Linked DNA regions of Homo sapiens: region 2 is linked to region 1. Evidence: fine-mapped expression QTL. A gene starts in region 1. The other region holds a variant in brackets. All regions are shown on one strand. Distances are from middle to middle.

What was found.
Region 2: its variant is fine-mapped to the expression of SMIM24 in whole blood (TOPMed, PIP above 0.99).

What each region holds. Positions count from the first base shown.
Region 1 is chr19:3,477,182-3,482,551 of GRCh38, reverse strand. It overlaps SMIM24 (small integral membrane protein 24), which reads left to right and starts at 2,027. Exons shown (of 4, transcript NM_001136503.2): 1 at 2,027-2,155; 2 at 3,623-3,734; 3 at 4,074-4,133. The coding sequence starts at 2,089. SMIM44 (small integral membrane protein 44) reads left to right here. Exons shown (of 2, transcript NM_001395954.1): 2 at 1-442.
Region 2 is chr19:3,500,942-3,506,311 of GRCh38, reverse strand. LOC105372245 (a long non-coding RNA gene) reads right to left here. Exons shown (of 4, transcript XR_936262.3): 4 at 5,261-5,370. FZR1 (fizzy and cell division cycle 20 related 1) reads right to left here and starts at 1. Exons shown (of 14, transcript NM_016263.4): 1 at 1. RefSeq lists enhancers at 267-526, 577-626. The variant C/G (reference allele first, on the strand shown) is at 3,196.

The DNA.
Region 1 (5,370 bases):
CAACCTTACCGAGTGCTTAGCGTGTACCTGCTGCTGTGCAGAGCAGGCTTTTTCTATGCAGTATCTCATTTAATCCTCCGAGGTAGGACTGATCGCCCCCACTTAACAGATGGGGAAACCGAGGCACGCAGTGATGAAGTGGCTTCGCCAAGGTCTCAGAGCACAGAGTGCTTTTCTCAGAAAAAGCCCAGACAACTGACTGACTTTGGAGGGCAGGATCTCCAAGGCGGGTCCTGCCCCCACCCCCTCTGCTGGGCTCCCCTACCTCCAAATCTTCTCCAGCCCCCGCCTCGGCTGCTGGGTTTGCTTGTCTCTGGGGGGTGGTCCTGACTTCCTAATCAGATCGAGAGCTCCCAGACAGCACCAAGGCCTCCTTCTCTTCCAAGCCCTGCACAAGACGGGATACACAGTCAGAGTTTAATAGATGCCTGCCTGGCTGGTTCAAGCAGACCTGTGGCCATCCTGGGGCTGGGATGTGTGAGCCCCATCCTGCTGAGTGGCCGGTCTGCTCAGCGGTCATCCGCAGACCTCCGGAAGAGAGGAAGTGACAGCGACTCAGCAGGCGCTCCATAAACACCTGTGCGATGACGCCGGGCCTTCCTACCACTCGTCTGGGCCATGGCTGCTCCCGTGTCAGCTGGGGCGGGGTCCCCCTTCGCCCGGGCAGGGCCCACTATCTAATCAGCCGAGGGACCAAGGTTGAGGACAGGAGAGCCTGGAGCCTGAGTCATCAACGCTCCCGGGCATCCCCACGTGAGAGCGTCCCGGTTTGCAGGTGGACCACGGGCATGTGGCCTCTGCACACCTTCCCTGTCCCTGTGTGCTCCCATGGCTGCTTGTGGGTCCTCAGGGGCCAAGAGCCTGGGCGAGGCAGGATAAGCTGGGGGCGAGGCAGACCCGGCTTCAAATCCCAGGTCAGACCTGCTGCGTGACCTTGACTTTCCTGGGCACAATGAGACCGGCACCATTTCACGGGGTGTTAAGAAAAGGAAATGCGATCTGTGAAATTGCCGAGCACGGAGCCTCATGTGTACTCTGAGAGCACAAAAGGTGACTCTCAAATTTGCTTTGAGAGACAAGGTCTTGTTCTGTTGCCCAGGCTGGAGTGCGGTGGTGCATGCAGTGGTGCAGTCGTAGCTCGCTGCAGCCTCGAACTCCTGGGCTCAAGCGATCCTCTCACCTCAGTCTCTTTGAGTAGCTGAGACTACAGGTGCAGGCCACCATGCTCAGCTAAGTTTTACATTTTTTATTTTAGAGACGGGAGGAGGTTGGTCTGGAACTCCTGGCCTCAAGCGATTCTCCCGCCTTAGCCTCCCAGAGTGCTGGGATTACAGGCGTGAGACACTGTACCCAGCCTTGGTAACTCTTTGTATTTCTAATTTTTTTTATTTCCTTTGAGACAGGGTCTTCCTCTGTCACCCAGGCTGGAGTGCGGTGGTGCGGCCATAACTGGCTGCAGCCTCAAACTCCTGGGCTCAAGTGATCCTCCCACTTCAGCACACCCTAGTAGCTGGGCCTGCAGGTGCCCGCCGCGCCTGGCTAATTTTTCTATTTTTGTAGAGGTAGGGCTTGACTAAGTTGCCCAGGTTAGGCTCAAGGATCTGCCCGCGTTGGCCTCTCAATGTAGTGGGATTACAGGTGTGAGGCACTGGGTGGGCGCACCCTTCTTAAGATATTCCAGTTGTATTTGTGAGTTCCCCCTGTGTCCAGAGTGGCACGGGGCCTGGGCCGGGACGGGAGGTCGCAGCCATCTCAGCTCAGCCCCTGCAGCAGGGATCACAAAGGGGTGGCCCTGAGGCTGATGGTCCCCAGGGCAGGGTGCAGGGAGGAGGGACTCCCTCAGTTAATTGTTACACAGGTCCAGAGTCTGGCCTCCCGGAGGGAGAGCGATGGGGCAGGAGCTGGCAGGGGAGGGGCAGGATGCCCAATCAGGTGGTGCCAGGGGCGGGCCCCGCTCCCAGGTCTCAGGCATCCCCCGCCCGGGGACCGCCTGTGCCTTATCACGGGGAGGCAGGGCCTCGCCCACACCAAACCTGTGGACGCCGACCCGGGACCGCCGCTGGCTGGCTGCTGGCTCACTCGACCGTCATGGAGACCCTGGGGGCCCTTCTGGTGCTGGAGTTTCTGCTCCTCTCCCCGGTGGAGGCCCAGCAGGGTAGGTGCAGGGGGGCGGGAGGGGGCGTCGCGGGATAGGGGAGTTGGTCAGGTGATCACCATCTCCCAATTTTCCATGGCGAGAAAAAGGAGAGGGGGCAGGAAGAAAAGGAAGAGTGGCTTGGAGGCCCTTCTCAACCCCCGCAGTACCGCCCGGCCTCCCTCTCGCTGGGCTCTGCCCTCCTCTGTAAGGGACCCCCCACCGCCCACCCGAGCCTTTCCCCTCTCCAGCCCTTCTGAGCACACCTGGCTGAACCCCCCGCCTTGAGCTCGGCCCCACTCTGAGCTCGGGCCTCCTTTACAAGCCCCTCCCCATCTGAGTCCCCGCCTCTTTTGTGAACCGCTCCTTCTCACTCCTCCTCCTTTATAAACCCCTCCCCGAGCCCCTCCTCCTCTGTAAGCCCCTCCCCTCTGGGCTCCTCCTTCTTTATAAGCCCCTCCCCCTGAGCCTCTGCCTCCTCTATAAGCCCCTCTCCCTCTGAGCCCCCTAGTTCACAAGCCTCTCCCCATCCGAGCCCCTTCCTCCTTTGTAAGCACCTCCTTCTCACTCTCCCTCCTTTATAAACCCCTCCCCGAGTCCCTCCTCCTCTGTAAGCCCCTCCCCTCTGAGCTCCTCCTTCTTTATAAGCCCCTCCCCCTGAGCCTCTGCCTCCTCTACAAGCCCCTCCCACTCTGAGCCCCCTAGTTCACAAGCCCCTCCCCATCTGAGCCTCTTCCTCCTCTGTAAGCCCCTCCTTCTCACTCATCCTTTATAGACCCCTCCCTGAGCCCCTCGTCTGTTGTAAGCCCCTCCCCTCTGAGCTCCTCCTTCTTTATAAGCCCCTCCTCCTGAGCCTCTGCCGCCTTTATAAGCCCCTCCCACTCTGAGACCCTCTCCCCTTATAAGCACCTCCCCTCTGAGCTCCTCCTTTATAAGCCCCTCCCTCTAAGCCTCTGCCTCCTTTTATAAGCTCCCCCCAACAGCTCCTCTGTTGTAAGCCCCAACCCCCCAGACTCTTCTTTATAAGCCCTCCCCATCTGAGCCACCTCCTCCTTCATAAGCCCCTCCCCTGAGCTTGTTCTCCTTTATAAACCCCACCCCTGAGCCACTCCTTTGTCATAAGCCCCGCCCTTCTGAGGTCCGCCTTTATAAGCCCCTCCCCCTGAGCCTCTGCCTGCATTATAAGCCCCGCCCCTTCTGAGCCCTCCTGATTTGTAAACTCCGTCCCCTCTAAGCCCCCCTTCTTTTATAAGCCCCTCCCCTCTCTGGGCCCCCAGGCTCCCTCCCACTCTGGTAAGGTACCCTCCCCCTCTCTAAACCCTCCCGACCCCCCTACGCCATCCAGGTCTCTGAAGCTCCGTCCCTTTCCAATACCCCCTCTGTCGGAGCACCCCCAGTGACCTTCTCTCTCTCCTTGCTAGGGTGGTGGGGGAAGGGGGTCTTCTGACCTTTTCTTCCTCTGAGTCGAACCTCCCCAACTTCCTGCAGCCACGGAGCATCGCCTGAAGCCGTGGCTGGTGGGCCTGGCTGCGGTAGTCGGCTTCCTGTTCATCGTCTATTTGGTCTTGCTGGCCAACCGCCTCTGGTGTTCCAAGGCCAGGTGGGTGCCCGCCCCCACCCCGCTGCCCCCACAGCCCTGCCCCCACCCCCAGCTTCCCAACCCTCTCTGGTACCCCCATCACCAGCCTCAAAGTCCGAAGGTCTCCCATTTCCCTGCTGCTCCTCCAACCTCTACTCTCAGAGCCCAGATCCCGGGCTTGCACCCGCCCGTCTCCCCAAGACAACGAGCCAGGCAGCCCAGCCCTTCCTTGCGTCCTGGGGTTCATGAGCCCCGGCTGGGAGGTTGGGACAGAGGCTGAGGCTGTCACACCGCTTCCTTCCCTTTACCGCCCCCTTTCTCCTCTCCCGCCCCCTTCCACCTTTCCCTTTATCTCTGCAGGGCTGAGGACGAGGAGGAGACCACGTTCAGAATGGAGTCCAACCTATACCAGGACCAGAGGTACTATGCGTGCGGATGCTGGGGGTCTGTGTGAACCCCTCCTCGGGGTGGGGGAATGGGTGTGCGCAGATGACCTTGCTGTCCTGAATCCTTCAAACACATTCCTGCCCTGGGATCTTCACCTTTCCTGTATCTTCTGGCAGCTCCTTCTCCTCCTCCAGTCCCTAGTCAGGGGTTTCCAGCCTGGCCACCAGCCTTCCTGACACTGTCCCCAGCCCCAAGTCTGATTCATGCTTATCACCAGTGGAGCTGTCTTAGTTGTTCACTAATTTTGAGACATTACGTGGTGCCTTCCAGTTGTGTAGGCAACTTAGCTTTTGTCCTGGCTGTGTCCTCATACCCAGCATTGGGCCTGGAACACAGGAGGTGCTTAATAAATACCTGTTGAAGAAGACTGTGGTGTAGGATTGTGTAGGTGTCTGTACAAGGCCTAGGTATGGGCGACCCACCTGGACTCAGTGCCTCCTATGGCTCTGACTGCCTCCCAACCTGAGGATTCCCACAGAGGACTCAGGGATGCAGACCTCCATCTTCCATCCACCCATCACCCACTCATCCACCCACTCACCCATTCATCCACTCACCCATTCACCCACTCACCCACCATCCATCCATCCATCATCCACTCATCCACCCACTCACCCATTCACCCACTCACCCATCCACCCACTCACCCATTCACCCACTCACCCATCCATCCATCACCCACCATCCATCCATCACCCACCATCCATCCATCCATCACCCACCCATCCACCCACTCACCCATCCACCCACTCACCCATTCACCCACTCACCTATCCACCCACTCACCCATCCACCCACTCACCCATCCATCACCCATTCACCCACTCACCCATCCACCCACTCACCCATCTACCCACTCACCCATCCATCCATCACCCACCATCCATCCATCCATCATCCATCCATCCATCATCCATTCATCACCCATCTGTTCACTCACCCAGCTGCCCACCCACCCATCTATTCACCTACCACTTATCCACCCACTCACCCATCCATTCATCACCCCCCATCCATTCATCACCCATCCACCCATCACCTACCCATCCACCCACCCACCATCCATCCACCCACCATCTGTCTATCATCCATCCATCCATCCATCCATCCATCCATCCATCCACTCACCCATCCCCCAACCCATCCATTCACCAACCCGTCCACCCACTCACCCATCCATTCATCACTCATCCATCCATCACCCACCCCC
Region 2 (5,370 bases), 24 kb before region 1:
TGCCTCCCGGCTCCCTCCCTCCGCCGCGCGCGCCCGGCCGGCCGCGCGCACCCCCGCAACCCGACCACGCCCCCACGCCGCGCGCGGCTAATCGCGGCCACGCCCCCCGCCTACCCCACACACCGCCAGGCCCTGCCCAACACCCAGCCAGGCCCTGCCCACTCCGAGTGGCTGCGCCTGCGCGCGTTGGGCATCTCGGGAGGACGTGACGTCTCCCGCGATTCAAATCAATACAGGAAGCGCGGCTCCACGCGTTGCCCAGGGCAACCGCGGCCGGAAGAGGACCCGCGGGGTGCTAGACGTTGCAGAAATGGCTCTGGTAGATGGAGGGCGTGGTTCCCACTGGGGACAGTCGCGGAATGGGGCGCCCCAGGGCAGACCCTTCCTAGGGTAGATCGAAGCCAGGCACACCTCAGTGCGGCATTGACGTCGCGCCTAATGAGCGCAGATGGGACCCAACACCAGGTGCGTGTCCCGAACGTACAAACGTCACTGCTGAGAGTCATTAATTTATTCAACAAACCTGCATTGCGCTCCTAAGTGCTGCTCCTCCAGGCCCCAGTGAGACAGCAGGGAACAAAACAGGTTTTTAGGCCAGGTGCGGTGGCTCAAGCCTGTAATCCCGGCACTTTGGGAGGCCGAGGCGGGCGGATCACCTGAGGTACGGAGTTAATCCCAGCTACTCGGGAGGTTGAGGCAGAAGAATCCCTTGAACCCAGGAGGCAGAGGTTGCAATGAGCCGAGATTGCGCCACTGCACTTCAGCCAGGGTGACAGAGCAACACTACGTCTTGAAAAAAAAAACAAAAAACAGGTTTTTAAAAAAATTATGGGCCGGGCGCGGTGGCTCACGCCTGTAATCACAGCACTTTGGGAGGTGGAGGTGGGTGGATCACCTGAGGTCAGGAGTTCGAGACCAGCCTGGCCAACATAGTGAAACCCCGTCTCTACTAAAAATACGAAAAATTAGCCAAGCATCGTGGCAGGCGCCTGTAATCCCAGCTACTGGGGAGACTGAGGCAGGAGAATTGCTTGAACCCGGGAGGCAAAGGTTGCAGTGAGCCAAGATCGCACCATTGTACTCCAGCCTAGGCAACAGGGCAAGACTCAGTCTCAAAAAAAAAAAAAAAAAAAAAAAGGTTAAACATAGAATTGCCACATGACACAGCAGTAACACTCCTAGGTATCTACCCAAGAGAAACAAACATGTAACATCCACGCAAAAACTCACACACCTATGTGCATAGCAGCTTTATTCATAACATCCACAAAGTGCACACAACCCAAATGTACATCCACAGATGAAGGGAAAATGCTCCATTCATACAATGACACGGTGTTTTGCAATATGAGGCAATGAGGCTCGGACACAGGCTACAGATTGGATGAACCTCGAAAGCATCATGCCCAGTGAAAGAAGCCAGATACAAAAGACCACATAGTGAGTGATTCCATTGATACGAAATGTCCAGATAAGCAAATCCATAGAGACAGGAAGTGGATTAGTGGTTGCCAAGGGCTGGGAGAGGGGGATCAGGAGTGACTGGAATGGACTTTATTTTGGGGGGTTGATGGATATGTTCTAAAATTGATGTGATGGCCGTGAGCTGTGGCTCACACCTGTAATCCCAGCACTTTGGGAGGCTGAGGCGGGCAGATCACTTGAGGTCAGGAGTTCAAGATCAGCCTGGCCAATCTGGTGAAACCCCATCTCTACTAAAAATACAAAAATGAGCCGGGTGTGCTGGCGCGCACCTGTAGTCCCAGCTACTCGGGAGGCTGAAGCAGGGGAATCACTTGAACCCGGGAAGTGTAGGTTGCAGTGAGCCCAGATCATGCCACCACACTCCACCTTGGGTGTCAAAGCAAGACTCCGTCTCGGAAAAAAAAAAAAAAAATTTATGTGATGATGGCTGCCCGACTCTGAATATACTAAACACCACTGAATTATCACTTTACACAGATGAATTGTACAGTATGTAAACTATATCTCAATACAGCTGTTATTTAAAAAGTTCTTGCCCGGCGCAGTGGCTTGCGCCTATAATCCCAGTGCTTTGGGAGGCCAAGGAGGGCGGATTATGAAGTCAAGAGATCGAGACCATCCTGGTCAACATGGCGAAACCTCATCTCTACTAAAAATACAAAAATTAGCTGAGCGTGGTAGCACGCGCCTGTAATCCCAGCTTCTCGGGAGGCTGAGGCAGGAGAATCCCTTGAACCCGGGAGGCGGTGGTTGAAGTGAACCGAGATTGCACCACTGCACTCCAGAAAAAAAAAAAAAAATCCCCTTTGGAGCTGAGTTAAGGAGAAAAGAGAACAGGGAAAAGGAGGAGGCAAGAGGTTACAGTTTCAGATGCAGTGCTCGGGGATGCTCTTATTGCAAAGATGATGTTTTAATAAAGATCTGAAAGAGGAGCTGGGCGCAGTGACTAACGGCTGTAATCCCGGCACTTTGGTAGGCCGAGGTGGGCAGATTACTTGAGGTCAGGCCTTCAAGACCAGCCTGGCCAACATGGTGAAACCTCATCTCTACTAAAAATACAAAAATTAGCCGGGCATGGTAGCAGGCCCCTGTATTCCCAGCTACTCGGGAGGCTGAGGGAGGAGAATCGTTGGAACCCGGGAGGCAGAGGTTGCGGTGAGCTGAGATCGCGCCACTGCACTCCAGCCTGGGCAACACAGCAAGACTCTGTCTCAGAAGAATAAAATAAAAGGAGAGGAGAGGGAGATTCTAACACAGAAACACAGAGACAGACACACAGGGGTCAAGGCCAGGTGATGACAGTGGCAGAGATTGGAGTGACGAAGCCACAAGCTGAGAAACACCAAGGACTGGCGGCCACCCCCAGAAGCTGGAAGAGGCAGGAAGGATCCTCCCCTGGAGCCTCCAGAGAGGCCACAGATCTGCAGATACCTGGATTCCAGACTTCCGCCCCCCAGGGACTTGCTCAATCCCAGAGGACCCACCGAACAGAAGACGCAGACTTGGTTCTTCTGTGCTATCAGTTTCTCGAAGGTCTACAGAGGCCAGATGCCAAGTTCTCTGACTTACACAGGCCTTGCTTTTGGCTGAGGCTTCGATATCTGCGTCCTGCACCCTGGGATTATCTCCTCCTGGGGAGCATCCTTGGGGCCAGTCACACCTGGCACCCTGCCCTCGTAGCCTTCCTGAGTCAGCACAGCTCCTGGTCCA[C/G]GGGAAGTCCTCCGTAAACAGCCTGAGCCACAAACATGTTGAGATGACGTCCTCGCAAGGCAGCTGAGGGCTGCAGTGATGCCTGTTATCTGCAGTCAGTTTTCCAACACATAGGAAGGCAATACAATAATTTAAAAAAAAAAAGGGGGGGTGGGCCGTGCACGGTGGCTCACGCCTGTAATCCCAGCACTTTGGGAGGCCGAGGCGGGCGGATCACGAGGTCAGGAGATCGAGACCATCCTGGCTAACACGGTGAAACCCCGTCTCTACTAAAAATACAAAAAAATTAGCTGGGCTTGGTGGTGGGCACCTGTCGTCCCAGCTACTTGGGAGGCTGAGGCAGGAGAATGGCGTGAACCCAGGAGGCGGAGCTTGCAGTGAGCTGAGATCGCCCCATTGCACTCCAGCCTGGGTGACAGAGCGAGACTCTGTCTCAAAAAAATAAAAGTGGGGGTGTCAGCTCCATGAGGCCAGACACTGTGTCTGTTTTGTCCTGTGTCCTCTGTGCCCAGGACACTATCCTCTGTGCTCAGGACACTGTCCAGCACACAGTAGTTGCTCAATAAGTATTTGTGAATGTTGTCTTAAAATAGAAGTTGGCCTTCCAAAAGGATTTCTTTGCTATGCACAGCATTTTATGTTTTTTCATTAATTTTTATTTAATTATTTTTTTGAGATGGAGTCTCACTCTGTCACCCAAGCTGGAGTGCAGTGACGCGATCTTGGCTCACTGCAACTTCCGTCTCCTGGGTTCAAGTGATGCTCCTGCCTCAGACTCCTGAGTAGCTGGAATTACAGGCACCCGCCACTAGGCCAAGCTAATTTTAGTATTTTTAGTAGAGATGGGGTTTCAGCATGTTGGCCATGCTGGTCTTGAACTCCTGACCACAAGTGATCCACCTGCCTTGGCCTCCCAAAGTGCTGGAATTACAGGCGTGAGCTACAATGCCCAGCCATGTTTTTTTATTAATTGCTCATTTTTTTTTTTTTTTTGAGATGGGGTCTTGCTCTGTCACCCAGGCTGGAATCCAGTGGTGTGATTACAGCTCACTGGATCCTTGAACTCCTGGACTCAAGCTATCAAGCCACCTGAGTAGCTGGGCCTACAGGCATGAGCCACCAGGCACAGTTGATTTTTTTTTTTTTTTTTTGGAAATGGAGTCTTGCTCTGTTGCCCAGGCTGGAGTGCAGTGACAGGATCTCAACTCACTGTAACCTGTGTCTCCCAGGCTCAAGCGATTCTCCTGCCTCAGCCACCCAAGTAGCTGGGATTACAGGCTGAGCCACTGCGCCCAGCCAAATTAAAAAAAATTTTTTTTCTGTTGAGACGGGGGCTTACCACATTGCCCAGGCTGGTCTTGGAATCTTGGGCTCAATCGATCATCCTCTCACCCCACAGCCTCCCAAAGTGCCAGGATTACAGGTATGAGCCACCACTCCTGGCAGTCACCCACATTTTAAAAATAAGAGATTGCAAGCAGGGCACAGTAGCTCACGCCTGTAATCCCAGCACTTTGGGAGGCCAAGGCAGGTGGATCACCTGAGGTCAGGAGTTTGAGACCAGCCTGGCCAACATAGTGAAACCCTGTCTCTACTAAAAATACAAAAAGTTAGCTGGTGTGGTGTTGCATGCCTGTAATCCCAGCTACTCGGGAAGCTGAAGCCTTTTTGTATTTTTAGTAGAGATGGGGGTTTCACCATGTTGGCCAGGCTGGTCTCGAACTCCTGACCTCAAGTGATAACACCCACCTCGGCCTCCCAAAGTGTTGGGATTACCGGTGTGAGCCACCGTACCCGGCCTCTTTCAGGTCTTTCTTCAGATGTCACCACCTCAGATTCTGGCCACCCTTCCTGAAACTGCACACCCTATACATACACCGCCCTTGGCTACCGAATTTTTTCTCGTTAGCCTTTTTCACCATCTAATAGGTATTGCATTTACTTATCGTGTTATTTTCTGTCTCTATAACAACACTGGGAGGCGTACGAGGGTAAGGGCTGAAGGCTCTCTTGTCCTCAAGGCCATGTACTATTTATTACATACATGAATGAATGAACGACTGCATTTCTTCCTTTTTTTATTCCTCACCTACTTAAGGTTCGAGCTCCCTGAGCCCATTGGCCAACACCTCTGGAGTCTGACCACGCCTAGAAACACTGCGCATGCTCCGTTGC